Regions from separate parts of the Homo sapiens genome. Here regions 1 and 3 are each linked to region 2. The links come from fine-mapping of genetic effects on gene expression. A gene starts in region 2. Each other region holds a variant in brackets. All regions are shown on one strand. Distances are from middle to middle.

Region 1 (7,217 bases), 22 kb after region 2:
ACAATATTAAATTCACGACACCATAGAAATGGTATACAAGCAGGGCAAAAATAAAAACGGTGGCACTGGGATGGCTGAAGCTTGAGGAATGCTGTCCCATGAAATTAAAAATAACCCAGCCATGTAATTATATTGTCCTGAAGGTAGATTGCAAGTTACCTAAATAGCACAGATCCACTATAGCCCATCATTATTAAAGCAAATTTTTGAAGGCTTACGTAGCAGTTACTTTAGCAACAGAGGTATAACAGAATCATATTCGAGCCACAAGACATATGTGCCTGAAAGTCTAATTACTGGAAAATTATAGGCCTCAGAAATACAGCTATGCCTCACTGCATGCTGCAGGGCTGGCTGAGTAGCTCATGGTAATTGGATAAACCACATCTACATAGAGGTTGTGTGGAAAGGAATAACCCTTCCCCCAACACCCTCAACAACCTCGATGATTCATTCATTCATTCACTCATTCAGTCATTCATTGCAATTTTTACTAGGTCCCTGCTAGATACATTGGAATACCATGAAGGGCTACAAAGGCCTGACAACTGCTCCTAGCAAGTTTCCAGTCCAGGGTGGGGTCCCCAACTTCAACCCCAGCCTTCCATGCCTGAGTGTCTAACTGCCAACTAGGCTCTGAAAAGAGCCCCATTCTTTGAATACATTTAACAAAGGAACCTGCCTACCCAGAGGTGGGTGGTCAGGGGAGGCTTCCTGGAGGAAGTGAGCATCAGGTTGAGATCTGAAGAAAGAGTAGGAATGAACGAGGGAAAGTGGGAGAGGAGAAGGATGCGAAAGGGCAGGTGCTTCCGTGTGTGGGTGTGGCCTCGCATCCCACGAGCAGCCCACAAGGTGAGCATCTCGCCCTGGGAGTGTGACTCTTGGATTCCAAGATATGCATTTCATATGTCTTGACCCCTAAATACAATCCAGTAATGGCATCCGTTCTTCAGTAAGAAAACAGCTATCTGATCCCAACACTGAGGAAAAATGTAGGGATGTTGAGTGGGTTTCCGCATCACCCTCACCCCCATGGGATTTTAAAGAAGGATTGTGACCACTCAGAACTTTCATCAGATGCACCAACATTTTAAAAATATACAAAAACAGTTGTTCTTGACCCTGGCTGCACTTTTGACTCCCTAGGGAGCTTTCAAAATCTCCAAGCCCAAGTCACACCCAAACCAAGTTAGTTAGAATCTCTTGGGGTGGAGCCCAGGGGTCAGTAATGTATAAAGCTCCCCAGGGAATCCAATGTGCAGCCAAGGCTGAGAACCACATAAGGAACCTGACCTCTATGGTGGATATGGTGGATGCAAATCTACAAAGACACACTGAGCACTTATTATGTGCCAGGCACTGGGCTGGGGGTGAAGTGGAGATTCGTGAGAATCAGATCCCACTGTGGTTTAACAATAGTGTGGAAGATGGCACCCACTTTCAAAGTATGCACTAGAACCAAGATAAAGATGAAAATTTCTCTGGTCACACCAATTGCCTGGGGAGCTCAGTGCAGATTCTGTGTCAGTAGGTCTGGGTTGGAGTCCAAGAGTCTGCATTCCTAGCAAGCTTCCCCTGGATACCTGAGATGCTGCTGGACTGAGAACCACACCTGGGTGGCAAGATTCTAAAGGAAATCTCTCAGATCCAGGCTACTTTTCCCCACCATGTCTCCACTACTCTGACAAGGCTGAGCATTGTCTGGAGATGATTTTTTCTTAAATTTAGGAAAAGAAGGAAATGCACCCTCGCAGCCTGCCAGGTGTGGGCTTGTATCCCCATGTCAGCTCCCAGCACACACCTTCAGATTCAGAGCAAGGGGCATAGCTCAAGAAGAAAGAGAAGGGCTGGGGAGGGGGGTGCTGAGTCAGAGGTTTTCAAAAATAGCAAACTCTCTGTGCCCAGCAGCCCCCGCTGCCTAATGAGTCCCCTATCTGGGGCCAGAACAAAGGCAAGGAAATTCAAGAAGCATAGAGATCAAAACCGCCTCCGAGGCTCTCCCACAATGAGTCTTCGTTTCTAATTAATCATCCCATTCTTGGCAAATCAATTGTGCATGTTTTAAAATCCGTATACCAAGAGCAAGCGATGGGGTGGGAGTTGAAAGCAAGAGGGTTCTGGAGCTGAGCTCGGGGCCATGAATTCTTGCGGGAGTAGCCGAACAGCAGGAGGGAACAGTAAAGTCAGCTGTGACCCATTCGGCAGAACCAGAAAAGAATAGATCAGGGGACACAAACACGTGCAGAGACCAGGCAGGTCATGGGAACCAGTGGACTGGACAGGGGTTCGTTGAAGGAGCGATGGGAGCAATGGTGGACCAGTCAGGGATTGGTCCACCTGACCCCAGAGGGTGGCTACTCAGTGCCAGCCCCTCCTTGCCAAGCAGAAATTCAGGCCTGGCTTTGCTGGATCTCCCTTTTTTTATCTGAAAATATCTGAAAGTAAGATTCTTTTAAATATGAAATATCCTGATTTATAGAAGTTGTCTCAAATGGTTTGGAAACACCATGCCATCCATCAGAATATATTGGAGAACCACATATGGAGTGCACGCCGCCAATGTGTAACCTCTGAAGTAGAGACTGGAGGAATTACCTGGAAAATGAAAAGTTATTTCCAATTAATTTAAGCCCAAACCCATCAGATTCTCTGGGAGTCCTCAGATGAAAGAATGAAAGAGAATGTATATTTGTATATTCACATCATGCCTACTGGCAGCAGACACTGCATCCACCTCTCCAGTTGCTTATTCATTCAAACAAGACTAACTGAGCAGCTACTATTTTTCAGGCCCTTTGCTATATGTGCTGTCAACAGGTCATCCCTGGGAGCAAGGAACATAGAAGTCCACAAGATCATTTCAGATAGTGGTAAGTACTCAAAGGTGCATAAAACAGGGGGTCGTCGGCCAGGTACGGTGGCTCACGCCTGTAATCCCAGCACTTTGGGAGGCTGAGACAGAAGGATCACTTGAGGTCAGGAGTTCGAGGCCAGCCTGGCCAACATGGTGAAGCCCCAACTTTACTAAAAATACAAAAATTAGCCAGGCGTGGTGGTGCACACCTGTAGTCTCAGCTACTCAGGAGGCTGAGGTGGGAGGATTGCTTGAGCCCCAGAGGTGGAAGCTGCAGTGAGCCATGATCACGCCACTGCACTCCAGCCTGGGCAACAAGCAAGACTCCACCTCAAAAAAAAAAAATGGGGGGTGTGATGATGGCAGTCAGGAAGCAGCTGTGTGAGCAGGCAG[G/A]GTGGGCTCCCTGAATCTGAAGGATCCAATTATCAGCCATCAAAATCTCAAGATGGACTGTACCAGCCAGAGGAAATTGCCAAGGCAAACACCCTGAGGTAGATTTGAGCTTGAATTATTTTCATTCATCATCAAGATAAATGTATGAGGCATTGTTGTGCCCATTGATCAGATGAGGACACTGAGGCCAGACTTGCTCCCAAGATCACATGGCTAGTGAGTAGCAGAAAGCCAATTACTGATCCCCTGTCTTGGACCAGTAATGTCACTAAAATGGGTGACTAACTTGGGGGTCATTTTCCCACCTTTGCACAGCTAAGGATTCTTCCCTAAATCAAAGGAGCCAGCAGAAGAGGCTGCAGTCTGTTACCCCAGAACATTCTTTATGGTGGGGCTCCTCATGGTCCCCAGGCCAGCAGCTGTCCCTGTATTTGAAGCATTCAGGGCATTCATCTTTCTCACCAACATCCACACATACAACACCACATTAAGACTTCAAGACCACCTCCCTGGGGACTGTGGGAAGCCCCTGAGGTTTTGGTGGAAGCATCTGCTGAGATCAGGGCATCCAACCAGCAACTGGGCTTGACCCACATGCATAGGAGAAATGAATCATCACAGTGGCTCATTATGCTTTCTAATACCTTTCAAGCTCTTCCTCCCAGTTTTATGCTTCTCAGCCTGGAGCTCACTTCCCTGGAATTCCCCAGTGGCTTGCTAATGAAAACATCCTTGTGGAACCTCTTTCTTCAATGTCTATTTGACTCAGGAATTACAGAGTGGAAACCCATCATTTTTCCCCAAAACAAGCACAGGTACTTTTGTGTCCAGATTTTGCCACTGATGCTGTCTAGCAAAGCACCTAAGATTCTGTGGCTTAAAACCATAATACTTCATTCTCACTCACATATTTGTGAGCTGGGGGGTGATCAGCTAACCTGGATGGGCTTGGCCAAGCTTGGCTATTAGCCATTGATTGGATCCCAATCTGCTCCAGGTGCCACTCACTCTCCCTGGACAAGTTGGGTAGCCAGGGCATGTGCTTTTCAAGGTGATGGCAGAAATTCAAGAGGGGTGAGAATAAGCCCATGAAGACTTTTAAAGCCCAGGTGAGGAACTGGCACATCGTCACTTCTGCCCACATTCCATTGGCCAAGCAAGTCACAAGGCCACACCCCATAGATGTGTAGAAGAAAGTGAATAATCACAGTGTTCCATTATATCTTCCAATACTTTTCAAACCCTTCCTCCCAGCTTAATGCTTCTCATAAAACTGACCCCCTGTCTTGACCCAGTAATGTCACTAAAGTGAATGACTTATTTGGCATCATTGTCCTATCTTTGCCTGGCCAAGGTTTCTTCCCTAGAACGGGGGAGCCAACAGGCAAGGCTACAGTCTGTTACCGCATATATTCTCTATAGAGTTCCTCATAGCCCCCAGGCCCAACACCAGTGGGGTGGAGTAGACTTACCCCCTAGTGAAGGCATTGCAAAGACACATCACAAAGGAATCAACACCTGCATGGGGACAGAAAGGATGCTGCATCGGCAGAGGGAGAAATCTGGCTGGGACATAGCCTCAGTGGAGGCTTCTGTTAACCCCACAGAGAATGCTGGAGCTGAGATGATCCTACAGAGCCAGGAAGAGGTGGGACAAGATACCAGACCTTACTACTCCTGCACTGTAATCAATGTGGGCTGTTTCCCGAAGGGACATGGCTTTGAGAAAGTTAAGCAAGAGTGATTTCTACATCAGAGGGGACTCCTGCAGAGGCTGATAGTTGCAGCATCCCCAGCTGCTGGGACAATAGGTTTTCAGTCCCACATCCACTTCACAAGTCCACCCTGACATTTGTGGGGCCGGGGGCAAGAGGATAAATGGGGGTCCACATAGCATATGTCTAAATGCTTAAAATTATCAATCAAGCTTGCTAACGTTAAACAGAAAATGTTCTATCCTCCTACTTTGACAAACAGACCTTTCCCAACAACTTGGAAGCCTAGGATCTAATGAGGAACTCAGATTTCTCAGTGCTCCACGCTGGAAGACAGCAGAGAGAAAGCTGGTCATCCATCTATTTCCCACCCCTCTTAATTTCCCACCCCAGCTTCATCGCACACTAAGAAGGGCCTTGCACCCACAGATGAACACACACAGCCCAGTGCTCAGATCCAAAATCTGTCACTCTTTAGCCATCTTTGGCCTGAGTGCACTGCTCTTGGGAGAAAAGATCCAGGGAAGAAGCCCTGCAAGCCCCTTGGGCAGGGAATCCTCAGCTCCCAGGTACTCAGGACATGCACTAGAAGGAGGAGGAAGTGAGCTCTGGATAACCACTTTCCTGGGGAAGGGCAAGGCCAGAGGAGTATCAGAGCAGGCCTCTGTCTTCCATTGCCCAGGGAAGCCTCTCTTGCCCAAGACCAACTGCAAGGCTGGTCTAGAAGACAAGCAAGTTTTCCTCTTAGGAAGATCAAGCTCACTGGAAAGGCAGCAGAGCGAGGTGGGTAAGAACACAACTCCTGTGGAACCAGACAGCCTGAGTTTCATCCAGGCTCCGTCACTTACTAGCTGTATGATCTTGGCCTTTGTTTCCACATCTGTAAAATGGGAGTCATAAGGCTCATAGGGCTGTCATGGGGGTTAAGGGATATCACACATCTAAAGGCCTTAGACCTGGTGCCTAATAAGGATTACATAAGTGTTTGATGAATAAAACCACCTCCCAAAGCATCACTTTAACATGATATTCTAGTAAAAGAGCCTTCTTTCTCATAAGGGGTGGGGAAGAGGAAGAGTGAGATGGTGAAAGTGACAGAAAATCACATCCTGCCACACGAGCGAATTGCTTGACTTCCCCAGACCCCAGACATCCAGCAAAATCCATACCCTTCAAGGATGGGCCACGGATGGCTGTGGCACCATGTAGCCACCCCCAACATGGGCAGAACGGCCCACTCCCTGCAGTTCATGGGGCCTGGCCTCTCTGACAAGAGCCACAAAAGTAAAACGTGGCTCAAACTGATTTGGAAAAACCATGGAAGAGAAGACCTGACGTGGTCAAGCTTGTTCCAGAGGAGGAGCTGGGAGAGTGTGTGTGTGCATGGTGTGTGTGTGGAGTGTGGGGGGGCGTGTGTGTGTGTGGCATGTGTGGGGTGTGTGTGTGCATGTGTGGCGTGTGTGGCGTGTGTGGTGTGTATGTGACGTGTGTGGTGTATGGGGGCGTGTGTGTGGGTGTGTGTAGTGTGTGTGGCGTGTGTGTGTGGCATGTGTGTGGTGTGTATGCGTGGTGTGTGTGGTGTGCATGTGTGCATATGTGTGGTGTGGTGGGTGTGGTGTGACGTGTGTGTGTGATATGTGTGGTGTGTATGATGTGTGGGGGGTTTGGTGTGTGTGTACGTGTGTGTGGTGTGTCTGTGGCGTGTGTGCATGTGCATGTGTGTGGTATGGTGTGTGTGTCGTGTGTGGTATGTTTGTATGTGGTGTTGGAGAGTGATGTGTGGGGGGGGTGTGGGTGTTGTGTTCATATGTACAGGTGTGTGGTGCATGTGTGTGGTGTGGTGTGTGTGGTTTGTGTGGTGTATGTGTGTGGTGTGTGTGGTATGAGTGTGTGTGTGCATGTATGTGCTGTGTGTGCCGTGTGTGTGATGTGTGTGTGAGCATATGTGTGGTGTGTGTTTGTGATGTGTGGGGGGTGTGGTGTGTGTGTGTACATGGGTGGTGTGTGTGTGAGTACACAGTGTGAGATGTGTGTGTGGTGTGTGTGTGTGGTGTGTGTGTGATGTGTGTGTGGTGTGAGTGTGTGTGGTGTGTGTGTGGTGAGAGTGTGTGTGGTGTGTGTGTGATGTGGGGGTGTGTGGGGTGTGTGTGGTGTGTGTGTGTGATGTGTGTGTGTGATGTGTATGTGGTGTGGTGTGTGTGTGTGTGTATATTAAAGAGAGAGACAACACAATCCTGGAGAGATGCTCAGAAGGT
Region 2 (7,217 bases):
AGGGGCCTGGAGTCTGGAAATTTACTTAGTATATTTGATGGGAATTACCTTGAGGATAGGTGATGTTGTGAGTCCAACATCACCATGTTAACTAAGATTGACTAATGGAAATGTAGACTTAGAATCAAAGAATGGAAGCAACCCAAGAGGTCACCACATTTGTGACAGAGACAGGTAGCTGTCCACAAAAATTCATTCTCCCTGTCCACAATACACGACTGTGGCTGGGAAAGAGCTGCTCTTTGCCAAGAACCTCATATCCTTGTAACTCCATGTCCTGGCCTCCTTTGCAACTAGATTGGCCACATGATAGTTCTCATGTGAGTGGAAGTCATGTCTGCTGCTTCCAGGCCAAAGCAGATAAGCAAATATGCCACCTCCATACTTTCTTTTGTCTTGTGCACCTGGCTGCAGACAATGAGGATATCTGAGGAGAGAGTGGGACCACCAGATGAGTCACTGAAGTACCATGAGGAAGAGGACCACCCTCCATTCAGAAATACTTGCCTTATAATAAAGCTCTGCTTTGCTTCAGCCCTTATGCCTTTGGGGACCTATTTGTTACTGCAGCTACTACCCTAGCTGATATACCATTCGACCTCCTTATTTACAGATGAAATTATTGTGGCCAAAGAGTAAGAGTGCCTTGCCAAGGTCACACAGTAAGCTCAACAAATGTCTAGAACTTTGGTCTCTTAACTCCTTGGAGTAGAGGAGTTGCAGTTTCCTGCCTGCCCCATGGAGCTACAAAGATTCTTAGAGGCCCTTCAGCAACAAGAGTGAGATTTAGTGGCAGCCTGGAGTCTTCCACCTCTGTTTCAACAAGAATAACACCACCTTTATCTGTTTTCAAATTACACTTCCCCATAAGACTTTCATTTGTGGAAAGGATTCTGCAACTGAAAATAATTTCAAAGCCTCCATGCTGGGGGATTGCTAACACGATCTGACTTTCTGTGGTACTATAAGACAAAGTTTCGCTTCTTCTCTGCCAAACCTTCTGGCCTCAACTGCTGACACGGAACATGTGGATTCACAGAAGTACATGAATATTTGCTTAGAAGGGAAAAAAGAAACCTTATTGTGCAGCAAAGAACCCAAGACCCCAGTGTGAACAAAGGGCAAAAAGGAAAGACTTTTAAGCACTCTAGGTTGGTAGTTCTCAAGTTTTGGGGTGCATCTGAATGACCTGGGGTGCTGGTTCAACATGCAGACACTGAAGCCTCATCCACAGAGATTCTGATTTCCAAACTGAAGCTTTAAGAAACACTCACAATTGGCCGGGCGCAGTGGCTCACGCCTGTAATCCCAGCACTTTTGGAGGCCGAGGTGGGTGGATCACAAGGTCAGGAGATTGAGACCATCCTGGCTAATACGGTGAAACCCCGTCTCTACTAAAAATACAAAAAATTAGCCGGGCGGGGTGGTGGGTGCCTGTAGTCGCAGCTACTTGGGAGGCTGAGGCAGGAGAATGGCGTGAACCCGGGAGGCAGAGCTTGCAGTGAGCCAAGATTGCGCCACTGTACTCCAGCCTGGGCGACAGAGCGAGACTCCATCTCCAGGAAAAAAAAAAAAAAGAAACACTCACAATTATTCTAATGCAGGTGGTCTAGAGATTGCACTTTGAGAAGCTCTGAGTCTACTTCATAGCCTCGCAACTGGCGGTAATGTCTGCACCCATGTGGTGTAGCTCAAAGAGAATGAAATAAGCTTTTGGTTTTCTTGTACATCAGTGGGAATAAGAGCATTAATAATCCACTAAAGAAATCAATAATAATTTCCATTTGGCTCAGATGAGTGTCACAGGTATAGACAGGCACAGTGGAATAGAAATGATCATCAGAACAATAGCTAATGTTTATAGAGACCTTATTTTACAACAAATCCTCTGCTTACAGCTTTACTTGTATGATCTCATTTACTCTTTAGAATAATCTTATGAGGCAGTTACTGATCATATTCCCATTTTATAGATGAGGAAACTCAGGCACAAAGATGAGGAATAACTGATTCCATGTCACTCAGTTGGCAGGTGGCAGGCCAATTCAAGCCCACCCCCAGAGTGATAATAATATCAAATAATATCATCCTTATTTACAGATGATATTATTGTGGCCAGAGAGTGGGAGTACCTTGCCTAAGACCAAGGTGCCCCTTCTTGCACAATGTTCTACTCCCTTTTGTGGGGAGGTCTAGCATCAGAACTCTCCAGGCTTCTGTTTCCTAATCTGTAAAATGGGCATGTTAATAGTACCTTCATCATGTGGCCATGGTGAGGATTTGATAAAATCATCTCGAGAAAGTGGTTTGCAAACTGAGAGGAGTTATTAGGTAAACATCTAAGAGATGGGACTTCAGTCCAACTTCCCCCACCCCATTTTACAGATGGTGAAACTGACACCTGGTTACTTTATTTATTCCATGAACAATGACCCTAATATATGCTAGTTCTTGTGCAGGGGACTGAGGATGCAGAAAAAAAGTAATATCCCAGATCTGGCCTCTAGGGGCCTCCCGGCTAGAAGGAGAGACAGACAAGATGACTGGTCATTAGAACACGGTGTGGTAGGAGCCGTGATAAGGGAGGGATAGGCCCTGGGAGAGCCTAGCAGACAAGCCCTGACCCAGTGCGGGTAGGGGACTTCTCAGAACAAGTCAAGCCAGAGAAAGGCATGACTTGCCCAAAGTTAAGGTTATCTGTTCCCTGAAGTTTTGGGGGAGTCCAAAGAAGGCCCCTGTGCATCAAGAGATAACTCTCCTGTGGACCTCCCAAGTGTATGACACATCATCATTTGAGTGCCACTGGTTTAGGTTAAAGAAAAGGCCAAGCTGCCTCCTCCTGCACCAGAGGCCTGAATGACCCAGTCACACTCACCTCAGCAGCCAAGGCATTTAGAGGAATCTTACCTTCAAACCAGTTTGGAAGGGGCAGGAGATACAGCAAGAACCACAGAGAAGATTGGTCTTGAGAAGGAGGTAGGGGATGCAAAAGGGAAGTTGAGGGCTTTCCCTAATAGAAAAAGAAAGACTCAGAACCTGGACGTTCAGGCGTGTGACCTCAGACCAGTGATCTGGCATCTCTGAACCGCACAGGTCTGAGTGATTGGGCTTATATCAAGTAGTAGTTCCCTGATGTTGTAATGCTTATAATTTTGCCAAAGCTGGCTTGCCCATTTAAAATGGGCTATTCTGAAGACAGAGGAGGGAGTGGAATATTTTCAACAGAGAGTGCCGGCAAAGGTTTTGTGTCCTTTATATACAAAGAACCCTTAGATATCAATTGGAAAAAGATAAACATGCCCCCAGAGGAGAAAAAAATGGGAACAGACTTGAACAGGAGAGTCAGACTAGAAATGTGAAAAATAAGTTTATAAAAGAGAATCAACACTAACAAAGAAATGAAATGCCTATTGAAGCATCTAGATATTATTCTCGACTTCACATCAGGGAAAGTTTAAGGGATGGGTAGCAACAAGGTGGGTTTAGTATGTGAGAATACTGTGCCCTGGTATAACATCGTAGAGAGGTCAAGCTGCCACGGCCTTCCAGGGTGCAGTGTGACCAAAAGCTCAGAAGTCTTAAAAATAGGCAAACCTTAAATCTAGCAATTTCTAAAAGGTATTCATAAGACACACACACAAAGATGTCATACTAAATATTCATTGCAGCACTGTTCTAATAAAAAAAAAGAAGCAAATCTATTATGGAAAAGTCAAATAATCTTAAGATAGCCTTTCTATGCAGCCATGAAAAATGTATATTGGAAGAATATAGGTGATATGGAAAAAAGTTCACAATCTGTGGTTAAGCAGGTTACCAAACTAGATGTGGAAATCCACATTCATATATTTAGTTGTGTATCCTTGCTATTTCTTTAAACAATGAACATGCATTACTTTTGACATCTGAAAATAATAACAAAACTCTTCCTTTTAACAAATATGAAATTATAAAAAGAAACAAACTTTTCTCTCTGTTAGTATTCATTCCCCTTCCCTGGCCCCCCTCAGAAGACACCCAAGGCAAGTGTGTGATGATACCTTCCCTCTGGTCTCTGCCCGGAAGGTCTTCCTGAGGGTTCCCTGTGACTGCAGGCCACTCGAGGCTGTTGGGGAGACTTGCACACCCTGGCTTCTTTCTGCCAATCACAGGCTCCTCTGGCTGTGGCTGTTTGCCCAGAAAGCAGTTCATTCATTTGTTCATTCAAGATCCCCCTCTGAACCCCCAGAGCGCCGCAGCTGGAACACCCCTATCACCCGGAGGCTTCCCAGGGAGCCTGCTCTGTCCTGAGCTCCCTGCTGGCCGCCGGGGCTGCTTCCCTGAATGGGACTGGGACAGAACTCAGCCAGAGAAACAGCTGGAGGGAGGAGAGCAGGAGGGAGGGGCAGGAAACTGGGCTGACCTAGGGCGGGGGCGGCTAGCTGCGTGGAGAGGGGGCTGCGAGGGGAGGGTGCCCCTACCAGCCGGGGACTGGGCTTGTGGGTGGCGGCGGGGGCCCGCTGGGGACGACCCGCCCCTCTGGCAGCCTCTTGCAGCCGGGGAGCCGTGCCCACTGAGCGCAAACAGGGAGCACATCTGAGCACCCGGCTGCTGGGGGAAGTGCAAGCGCCTCTGCTCCCGGTGAGGGGCTCAAGCTCCACACTGACCGAGAGATTGGCTGCCTCTCACCCTGGGCCTTTGCAACGCTGTTCCTCCCACCTGGATGCTATTCCTGCCCTAATTCGTGGCCCGATGGTCTCCTACTGCCTCTTCAGGTCTCAGGTTGAAGGTCACCTCCCAGGGAAGCCTTCCCCAACCCTCGGGGGCTGCTGTGCCCCTCAGGGTCACCCCATCACCTCACTGATGCAGTGCTGTCCTTGCCTGTTAAGATGTCTCTCTCCTTGCACCGAGAACTCCTTGCACCAGGAACTCTGTAGGGAAAGAACTGTATTCTGTTCCCTGCCCTAACCAGGCGCTAAGTGCCTGGTTCATCGGCTGTGTGGTCACCATCATTAGTGGAATAATCAAAACAACCGACAGCCAGGCAGCGTGCTAGGCGATGCGTACTTACTCTTCACGGCAACCCTAGATAACAGGAATTATTACTACTCCAGTCTTACCAATAAGGAAACTGGGGTACAGAGAGATTAAGTCACTTGCTCAAGACCACACCGCCAGCAGCTGACAGAGCTGGGATTCCAACTATGTTGTCTGGCTCGGAGGCCCACCCTTGGCCTCCAGACTGAAGAAATAACAGAAGTGCCCATGTGGGCCCCTGTGCCAAGTGCTTCCATGGAGTAAGCCGTGTGAACCACCACCCACGTCGGGGGGGCATCACTTGCCCATTCTACACATGAGGATGCTAGGGCCACAGAGCAGAAGTCGTTTTGCCCAGGGCGCCAAGCTCATGCTGACCGAGCCATGGCTGGATCTGAGTCTGTCTGATTCCAAAGCCAAGACTGCCTACGACTGCCTAAAATAATATTTTTAGAAAGAAAAAGAAAAGGGAAGGGCAGGGGAGGGGAAGAGAGGGGAAGGGAGGAGAAGAAAGAAAGGAAGAAAAGGGAGGGCAGGGAGGAAGGTAATGGGGAGGAGGGGAAGGTGAAGGGAGAGGGAGATGGGGAGGGAGGGAGAGAAGGAGAGAAACCTGTGTTTTGGGCCTCAAAGTCTTGGGCAGGTGGAGGACTATGTCCTCATCGTCTGATCAGCCTTAGAACCCCACCGACCTCTCCCCACCATCCTCAATCCTTTAATTCAGTGAGCTTTACACTTAGAAACCATCTAATTTCATTCTTCCATTTCACAGATAACTTGAAGCCCAGAGAGATTGAGTCTCTTGCCTGAGGTCACACAGGTCTCTATAGTCAGAAGTCAGGCCCAGTCTACCCAACTGTCTTCCTTGCTCTCTTCTTCTTTGGGCTTATCTAGGGAACAAAACATCATATCGAAACACTTACTGTACAGATGAGAACACTGAACCCAGAGGAGGCAAGGGACTCACCCAAGGTCACCCAGAAGTTAGTAATTGTATTGGTCCGTTCTCACACTGCTGTGAAGAAATACCCAAGACTGGGTAATTTATAAAGAAAAAAGGTTTAATTGACTCACATTTTCGCATAGCAGGGGAGGCCTCAGGAAACTTACAATCATGATGGAAGGTACCTCTTCACAGGGTGGCAGGAGAGACAATGAGTGCCAGGCAAAGGGGGAAGCCTCTTATAAAACCATCAGATTTCATGAGAACTCACTCACTATCATGAGAACAGGATGGGGGGAAAACCACCCCCATGTTCAATTACCTCCCACCTGGTCCCTCCCATGACTCGTGAGGATTATGGAATTCCAATTCAAGATGAGATTTGGGTCGGGACACAAAGCCAAATCATGTCATTCCCCAGGTTCTCCTGGTGAAAGGAGAGGATATTTCCATAACGTGGCAGGGATCTTGTATATCACCATCTAATAGAGACCAGAGGTTCCTAAAGTCTAGTTTCCATACCAACCCCAGCAGCCTCACCCAGAAGTTTGTTAGAAACACAAACCCTTGGGCCTCACTGCAGACCTTGGCAATCAGAGACTCCAGGAAGCCATCTGGGTTTTAAGAAGCCCTCCAGGGGATTCTGATGCTTGCTCAAGTTTGAGATCCACTGACATAGGCATTTCAATTAGGAATCCATTGAAATGGGCCCTGGAACAAGTCACCTTGCCAATGCACAGAATAGTGGCTAAGAACAGAGGCTTTGATAGCAGACGGACCTGGTTTGAATTCCTGTCGCTGTCACTGTAAGCTGTGTGACTTGGGCAAGGCCTTTCACCTTTGGAGTCTCAGTTTCCTCATCTGCTGTGGACAGTGGAAGAGGAAGAGGAGGAAGAGGGAAAGGGAGGAGGGAGAGGAAAAGAGGAGGAGGGAAAAAGGAGAGGAGGAGGAGGGAAAGAGGAGAGGAGGAGGAGGAAAAAGGAGGGGCCAAGTAGAGGAGAGGGGAGGGGGAGGAGGAGGAGGGAAAGGGAGGAGGGATATGAAAAGAGGAGGAGGGAAGAGGAGCGGAGGAGGAGGGAAGAGAAAGAAAGGGGAGGAGGAGAGGGTGGGGGAGGAGGAGACGAGGAGGAGGGAGTAAGGAGGAGGAGGGAAAGGGAGGAAGGAGATGAAAAGAGGAGGAGGAAGGAGGAAGAGAGGAGGAGGAGGGAAGAGGAGGGGTCAAGGGGAGGAGAGGGGAGAGGGAGGAGGAGAAGAGGGGGAG
Region 3 (7,217 bases), 47 kb before region 2:
CACAGGAGCATCTGTCCTTGGGCCACCTGATGCAGTGCCAAAGAGTATAGACCTGACCATGAGGAGGCCTGGCTTTATGTCCCTTATCTGCTAGGGTTTACTATATTATCTTGGGTGAGTAACTACCTCTTTCACATCCTCAGTTGCTAGAAAAGCAAAATAAGTGAAAAGAATTTTTTTCAAAATGCAAATTTCTTGGAGCTCGAAGGTTTGAGAATGGCAGGTTGGGGACTTCAGGGCTTCTCCTGCTGCCCACAACATAGCTCTGTGACTTTGCACTGGCCGCCTCACCTCTCTGAGCCTCAGCTGCTGTTCTGTGAAGTAAGTGAGGAAGGCAAAAGGGAGGTGATGGCAGGAACCCCCAGAACTGAGCCACACACTCTTGCTTCAGTCTCTTTATTCGAGAGAAACTTTGTCCTCAAAGGGAAGAAGTAAGAAGACCCCCTGCTGAATTATTTCACAGTAGAAATAGTAGATTCCTCTCTGGTCCTAGATACCACCCCCAGCAGCAATTTTCCAAACCCAGGATTTGGTAACCTTGGGCCTAGGGCATCCCAGCCCCAACAAGAGCATAACATGTTAGGGAGGAACGAGAGAGGGAGGCAGGGCAGGAGTTGAGGAATCACCGACCACTTTCATCCAAACCAGACACCACCTCGTTTTGCAGAGTCCTCAGGGGAAGCTCTCAAAACCTCAGTTCCCTCATCTGTGAAATGGGAGACATCTGGGCAAGATGAGTTTGAAGGTCCCTTATGGTTTTCACGATTGGATTCTATCTTCTCCCACCCATCCAGGCTCCCAACCCCACCAGAGCTGACTCTGGGGTCGAATTTGAGCCAATCCCCTCCCTTTGTCAGTGCCCAGTTTCCTCACCCCTTCTGAACCTTGCTGCCAGAATCTCTGTGCCTCTTCTCTGGAGAAGGACCCAGGAACCTGCAGGGCTCTGTGCGCTCTGGGAATTATCTAAGGCTGGCAAAGGCATCCCGGTGCTTGAGGCCCTTCGTGTTCTTGCTCTTCCCTTCTCCCTGTCCTTGCTGGCTCAAGGGTCAGCTGGAGATGGTTCTGAAATCAAATTCCTCCCACTCTTTGGACTTCCATTCCTCTCCCCTTCTCTCTTCTTTCTTTCTTCCTTGTCTTTTCCTTCTTCTTCTCCCCACCCTCTCCTTCCAAGGGCTGAAGAAGTTGGGCATTCAGGCAGCTGACCTGATTCAAAGCCCAGCTCCATACCTCACTAGCTGTGCAACTCTGAACTAGTGAAGTCTGTTCTTGAAACAGAAACTCACTTTCTGCACCCCCCCCCCACCTTGCTATGATGGTCCCCTTCTGCCAGGGCCAATTTGAGGTTTCAGTGTTTGTGCCTGAACCATCGTAGGTGCTTCATGAATGCCAGATCCCTTTCCTTCATCATCATGCTCTGGGACCTTTCTGTCCCCTCTCCTGTCCCTCCCCTATCCTCAAACACCATCTTCTTTTCTTTTCCCTCTACCTCTTGTCCTCACGATCCCTCAGCTCCCCCACCCCACCCAGGAGGCAGGGCTAAGTAAGGCCCCATCACTGAGTCCTGGGCCCAGAGAGAAGGCTCTGGGCACTAAGTATGTTGGTTGCCTGTGCAGCAGTGCAGGTGAGCACACTTTGCACACTGCAGGGACGATATATGCATGACCCATGGAGATGTTCACATGAAGCTGTGGGGACAAGACTGTATGGGATGTTAAGGCTGCATTTAAGTACTTGACAGGAACCTAAGTCAGAACAGGAAGACCCACAGAGCAGCCAGAAAGAGGGAGGCCAGACTCTAAGGAGGAAAACAGCCGGTTTGAATTGTGCTCCTGTTTATCAGCTTTTCCAATGACAACATGAATTCCTGGCTCCCCCATCCTGGCCTGGACTGCCAGAAGCCCAGGAAAAGCAGCATCCTACAAGCCAGGAGGGCCAAGGCGCTGACGACTGCTGCTGTGACCCGGGACAGGTCCCATCCCATCTCGTGCCTCAGTAAATGTGGGAAGAGGGGAGATGGGGGCCACTGAGCAATATTTAAAGCTCCCTTTTTGCTCTCAAACCGTCTATATTCAAACTCTTTAAAGCATTCAGAGGCTCCAGCTTGGGATCAATTCAGAGCTGCCTTGTCATAAGCATTAAGGCACAATAAGGGAAGGAACAGTTTGTCTCTTAATGAAGTGTGATTCCAAACAGCCCATGGCCTCGGGAACTCGCCCAGCGCGGGGTAGACATTGCATCTGTTCATTGCATCTTGTTGGAGAATCAGCTTAACAATGAAGGGACTTGGAAGAGAACAGAATGTGGACACTTAGGAGCCAAAGGGCCTCAGGCCCACAAGGGACTGCCTCCTGCCAGCTTTCCCTCCCCATTGCCTTGATCTCTGGAGACATAGGAGGTGGGAGCCACGGTAGGAGGCTGTTAATGGCTGTTGAGGGAGCTGGAAGCCAAGTGCATTTTCTCTGCCATGTTGCATCATTTTTGAAAACTATTTGCAAAGTTTCTTAAAGGCCATTAAGATGTTCATCCTCATTTGCAGAAAAATCAATATTTATGGCAAAAATCTCCAAACTTTTTAAGTCCTTCCCAACTCTGCAGCCTCATTTGAGCCAGGCAAACTGAAGTTCAAATCCAAGCTCCGGCAGAGACTAGCTGGGTACCTTTGGGCAAGTTACTTAACCTCTCTAAGCCTCAGATTCCTCCTATGTAAAAGGGAAGTTATAACCATACCTAACTCAGGGTTGCTGTAATGATTAAATGAGAAAACATATGTAAAGTGCATAATATAAAAAGTGCTAAATAAATGTAGGCTATCAATATACTAGAATAATCTCCACAGATAAATTCCAAATAGAAGAACAGAGTTTCTGGAGCCAGACGGAGCCAGGTTCAGATCTTAACTCTGCCACTGATTAGCTGTGTGATGCTGGGCAAGTTACTTTCCCCATCTGGGCCTCAGCTATGTCATTTGTAAATGGGGCTATGACACTCTGTGGCCACAGGGACGTGTCAGTATTAGATGAGAAAAGCCATGCCAGGCACCTGTATCCAGGAGGTATTTGGTGTCTGCAGCTCAGAAACACAGTTCAAGGAGTCCAGCTCCAGACTCTGTCTCAAGTGACTGAGTCCTCGGACATACTCTTCTTCCCAGGGGACTCTCCGGAGTTGCTTCCCAAAGCTGCATTTTGGACC[T/C]GTCTCCAAAGGCGTTGAGGAAATTAACCAGAATGAGAAGCCCCACCACCAGTGTTTTATTCTAAGCACCTCCAGCCAGAGCTGAGTGGATTAGGAAAGGCAGAAAAAAATCCCTGTGATGGGGTGAGGGCTGCTGGTGAAGATGCCTGCCACAACCCCACCCCCAGGTAAGAGGGGCAAGGTGAGATCAGGGGCTGGCACCACCCTGACGCCCCAAATAGCTCCAGCCTAAAGCACCATCAGCCTGCGATGTTCTAGGGTGAGCTGCTCCATGCCTGCATCCTTTAAAGGTTCTTTTCTCCTTTCTCATTTCTTTGCCAAATCTCAAGTCCTCGTTGCATCCCTCACTTGTCTTGCCCTTGCAAAGAGCCCACAGGACCTCTCAGGACCAGTTCTCTGTCTTCCTAGCTGATCCGAAAGCCAAATTCATGGCCTATGGAGTTCATGGGCTGATATGTCACCTTCCTCTCCCAGATCACCTATGCATTTCCACATACTTTAACACAGAGCAGTGACTTGAAGGTAGGGTTTTCTGGCCAGCTACTGATAATATATATACAAGGGCCAAGTGTGATCTGCATCACACTGGGTTTGCTCTGACCCCCTCACTGCTCACACCAGGAATGGACCTTGGAGAGTGTCATTTCTGGGGCACACACAATAGGCAGCTTAATCCCACCGCCCTATGCCAATCCCAGTTCATGGCAATGCTTTTGAGAATTCTTCCTTTTTTGCTTTGAGTCAGTCAAGGCTGGCCTCCCAAGAAGCATAAATTGCTAGTCCAAGGCTGTATGGAACACAGCATGTTCTGTCCACTAGAAGAAAGGGGTTCCAGGCCCTAGATTCCCAGCATAAAACACTGTTCATCCCATGCAAAATGCAGTGAAAATTGGTGGATGCTAAAGAGGTTCTTGCCTTGATCTTCAGAAGACATATCCTTGGGTGTCCCTGGGTTGAGAGAGTCCATTGAGGGGTTCCACAGTGAGGATCAAAGCATGCCGGTCTCCCTCTCATTCATAGAAGTCCTCTCATTCATTGATGACATCTTGGTAAAGCTTCTATGGCTGGGGTAGGAAGAGTGGCCTGTATCTTCACTTAGAGCATTGACCAGGCGAGAGAAGAGGGCCACCTTGAACTTCTTGAAGTCCTGACCCATGAAAACATACAGAATGGGGTTCATGCAGCTGTTGGCAATGGCAAGGGCAGTGGCCAGGGGCAAACCCAGGCTGAAGACAGAGCCAGGCATGGCAGTGTGGTGGAGCTCTAGGAGGTTGAGTGTGTGGTAGGGGCACCAGCAGAGGAAGAAGGTAATGATGATGGTCACAATAATCTTGAAGGGCTTCTTGGTCTTGGCCAGGCGGTTGCGCTGCAGTTTGCACACGATGGTGAGGTAGCAAGCTGTGATGATGAGGACTGGGACCAGGAAGCCACAGAGGAAGCGGGTGACAGTCACCACCATGTGCCGGCTATACCCCACAGGGTCCATTTGGGAGTGAGTGGGCCACGAGGAAGACCCAGGTGTGGACAGGCTGAAGTTGTTGAAGCAGGATATTTTCCCATGCAGGTTGGCTGTGTCCCGGAAGACGAGAGATGGGGAACTCAAGAAGAAAGCCAGGACCCAGATGACCATGCAGGCCATGTAAGCCAGGCGAACGCTGCGGTGGTTCTGGGACCAGACAGGGAGGAGCACAGAGATGCAGCGGTCAGAGCTGATGATGGTCAGCAGGAAGACGCTGGTGAACATGTTGTGGATGAGAAGGAAGTTGCTGATCTTGCACATGGCTGTCCCGAAAACCCAGTGGTAGTCCATGGCGGCATAGGTGATATGGATTGGGAGGAAGACGTTGAACAGGAAATCTGCCACTGCCAGGTTGAGGAACCAGACCATGTTCACTGTCTTCTTCATCTTGAAGGTGGCAATGATGATCACCAGACCATTGCCCAGAATCCCGAGGAAGCAGACGATGCTGTAGACCACCACCAGGAAGATCCTGGTCACCCTGGCTTCCAAGGGGGATAAGTCCTCCAAAACCACAATGGAGTCTAAATAATCAGGGTATTCATCACCGTAACTGATGGAAGTGTTGTAATCTTCATCCTCCATTCTCTGCAAGAGAAGACAGGGACCATTAGAGGAACCCTAGAGTTGGCTTTAAGAGGTTGACCAATACCAGCAAGACCAACAATGTTCCCCCTGACTCTGAGCAAGTCCAGTTTTGTGATTTAACCATTTCCTTCTTTGCTATTTTATTTATTGAACAAATGCCTCTCTGGTACCTCCTACATGCCAGGCACTATTGCATTCTACACTCTCTTAATCTTCACAGTAACTCAATGAGGTAGGTAGGTTATGAGCCTCAACTTACAAATGAGGAAACTGAGTCACAGAGAGCTTATGTCATTTGCCTGAAGTCCTACAGCTAGGAAAAGGCAGACCTGTGATTTGAATCCAAGCTTCAGAGTCTATCCTTTTGACAACCATGTTTTCTGTCTGCTTGGGGCCCTGTCTTCCTCTAGAGCCTAGTGGGGGAGACAATTGTTCATCAAAAAGTCCCTCAAATAATGGGAACATTGCAATAATGCTAAGTGCAATGAAGAAGAGGTACATGGTGCTGTGAACTTGATTCCAACATGCTTCTAAAACCAAGTGGACAGCCTTGTTGTGATCCCCCTGTGCACCCAATCTGTCAGTGGTCACTGGTGCCCTTTGGAGTTCAGACCACAAGACTTCCTCACCATTCACCGTTATGTTGTCTGCAGCTCTCCAATGTGAGTCCTCAGCCAATCAGTCCCTGTACACAGCTAGAAACACCTGTAGGGAAAAAAAAAAAAAAAAAAGCAGCAATTGGATCCAGGTCTAAGAACCAGAGGGTTGAGTGGACCCAGCCAGAAATAAGATCTGTTGTTCTTATTCCCATTTTACAGAGAAGGAAGCAGAAGTTCAGAAAGGCTGTTATTCAGCCAAGGTTATGCAGCCAGGAAGGGATGGAGCCCCTTGAACCTAGGTCAACTGACTCTTCCCAGGTCAAGTGCTGGACTCTTCATTCTAACCACTCCCCTCTCCCAGCACATCCCTAGCTGACAGCTGGAGTCGGGCATGAGTAAAGGAAGACACAGAGGAGGTACATGGATGGCTCAATCCACTACCAGGTCGGGACTCAACTCCACTACCAGGGCAGGACCCACAAAATACTGTTTTAGGAAGTGTGAGCACAGAGAAAACAGGAGAAGACCCACACAGAGTACCTGCTATGTGCCAAGAACTTTTATTCTTTCTTGTTATTTAGTCTTCCTTGGGACTTTTCCAGGCAGGTGTTATTCCTTTTGTGTTAAGAAATAGAGAGACTGAGGCTCAGAGAAAGAAGCATCATTCTTGCTGGATATTCTCTGGGCCCTATGGGAACCATGAATGAGATGCAGGCTCTGAAGCCACAGCAGTCTGGTGTGAAGACAGACACAAATATATCCACTGAGCCTCCGCTGTGCAGACAACTTAAGTGGCACTTTAAACAAGCCCCATAACAATCTTGCTGAGTATTTTTCCAGTCTATGGAAGAACAAACATATTCTGAGGAGTTTGCAAGTTTGCAAGATCTTGGAGGCAGTGATCACATGCAGGGTTCATACCTAACCCCGGACACTTATGAGCTGTGTGGCTTTGGGCAAGTGATTTCTCTTCCCTGAATCTCAGTTTTCTTACCAATAAATGGGATTTCTCACCTCACAGAGTGTATATAAGAACTAGAAGCATCAGAAATGTGGAGCATTTAGCTTGGTATTGGCACATAGTAAGCCCTCAATAAATACTAGTGATTGCATTATTGCCTAGAGGTGCACAGCTGATAAGCAGGATTTAAAACCAAGGCTCTGATACCCCAGAGCCCATGCACTTTTTTCTGCGGCTCATGATCTCCCCATCTTGTCAAATGGGCTCCAAACCAGATATTTCAGCTTCACAAGGCTGCTAATCAATGCTTTATTATAAATAACTCCAACCTTCCTGCACATAAATTCATTACTGATCCTTC

The links. PIP is the estimated chance that this variant, and not a neighbour inherited with it, causes the effect. A credible set is the group of variants that fine-mapping cannot tell apart.
Region 1: its variant is the best candidate, but not a certain one, in a credible set for the expression of CMKLR1 in cerebellum (GTEx, PIP 0.75).
Region 3: its variant is the best candidate, but not a certain one, in a credible set for the expression of CMKLR1 in whole blood (INTERVAL, PIP 0.65).

Annotation. Positions count from the first base shown.
Region 1 is chr12:108,356,830-108,364,046 of GRCh38, forward strand. No RefSeq gene overlaps it. Among named protein-coding and RNA genes, the nearest start is that of CMKLR1, 21 kb to the left of the region's middle. The variant G/A (reference allele first, on the strand shown) is at 3,248.
Region 2 is chr12:108,334,987-108,342,203 of GRCh38, forward strand. CMKLR1 (chemerin chemokine-like receptor 1) reads right to left here and starts at 4,325. Exons shown (of 4, transcript NM_001142343.2): 1 at 4,041-4,325. RefSeq lists an enhancer at 3,758-4,381 and a silencer at 4,489-4,608.
Region 3 is chr12:108,287,664-108,294,880 of GRCh38, forward strand. It overlaps CMKLR1 (chemerin chemokine-like receptor 1), which reads right to left. Exons shown (of 4, transcript NM_001142343.2): 3 at 5,926-6,001; 4 at 383-5,296. The coding sequence starts at 5,928. The coding sequence ends at 4,178. Among named protein-coding and RNA genes, the nearest start is that of CMKLR1, 48 kb to the right of the region's middle. The variant T/C (reference allele first, on the strand shown) is at 3,190.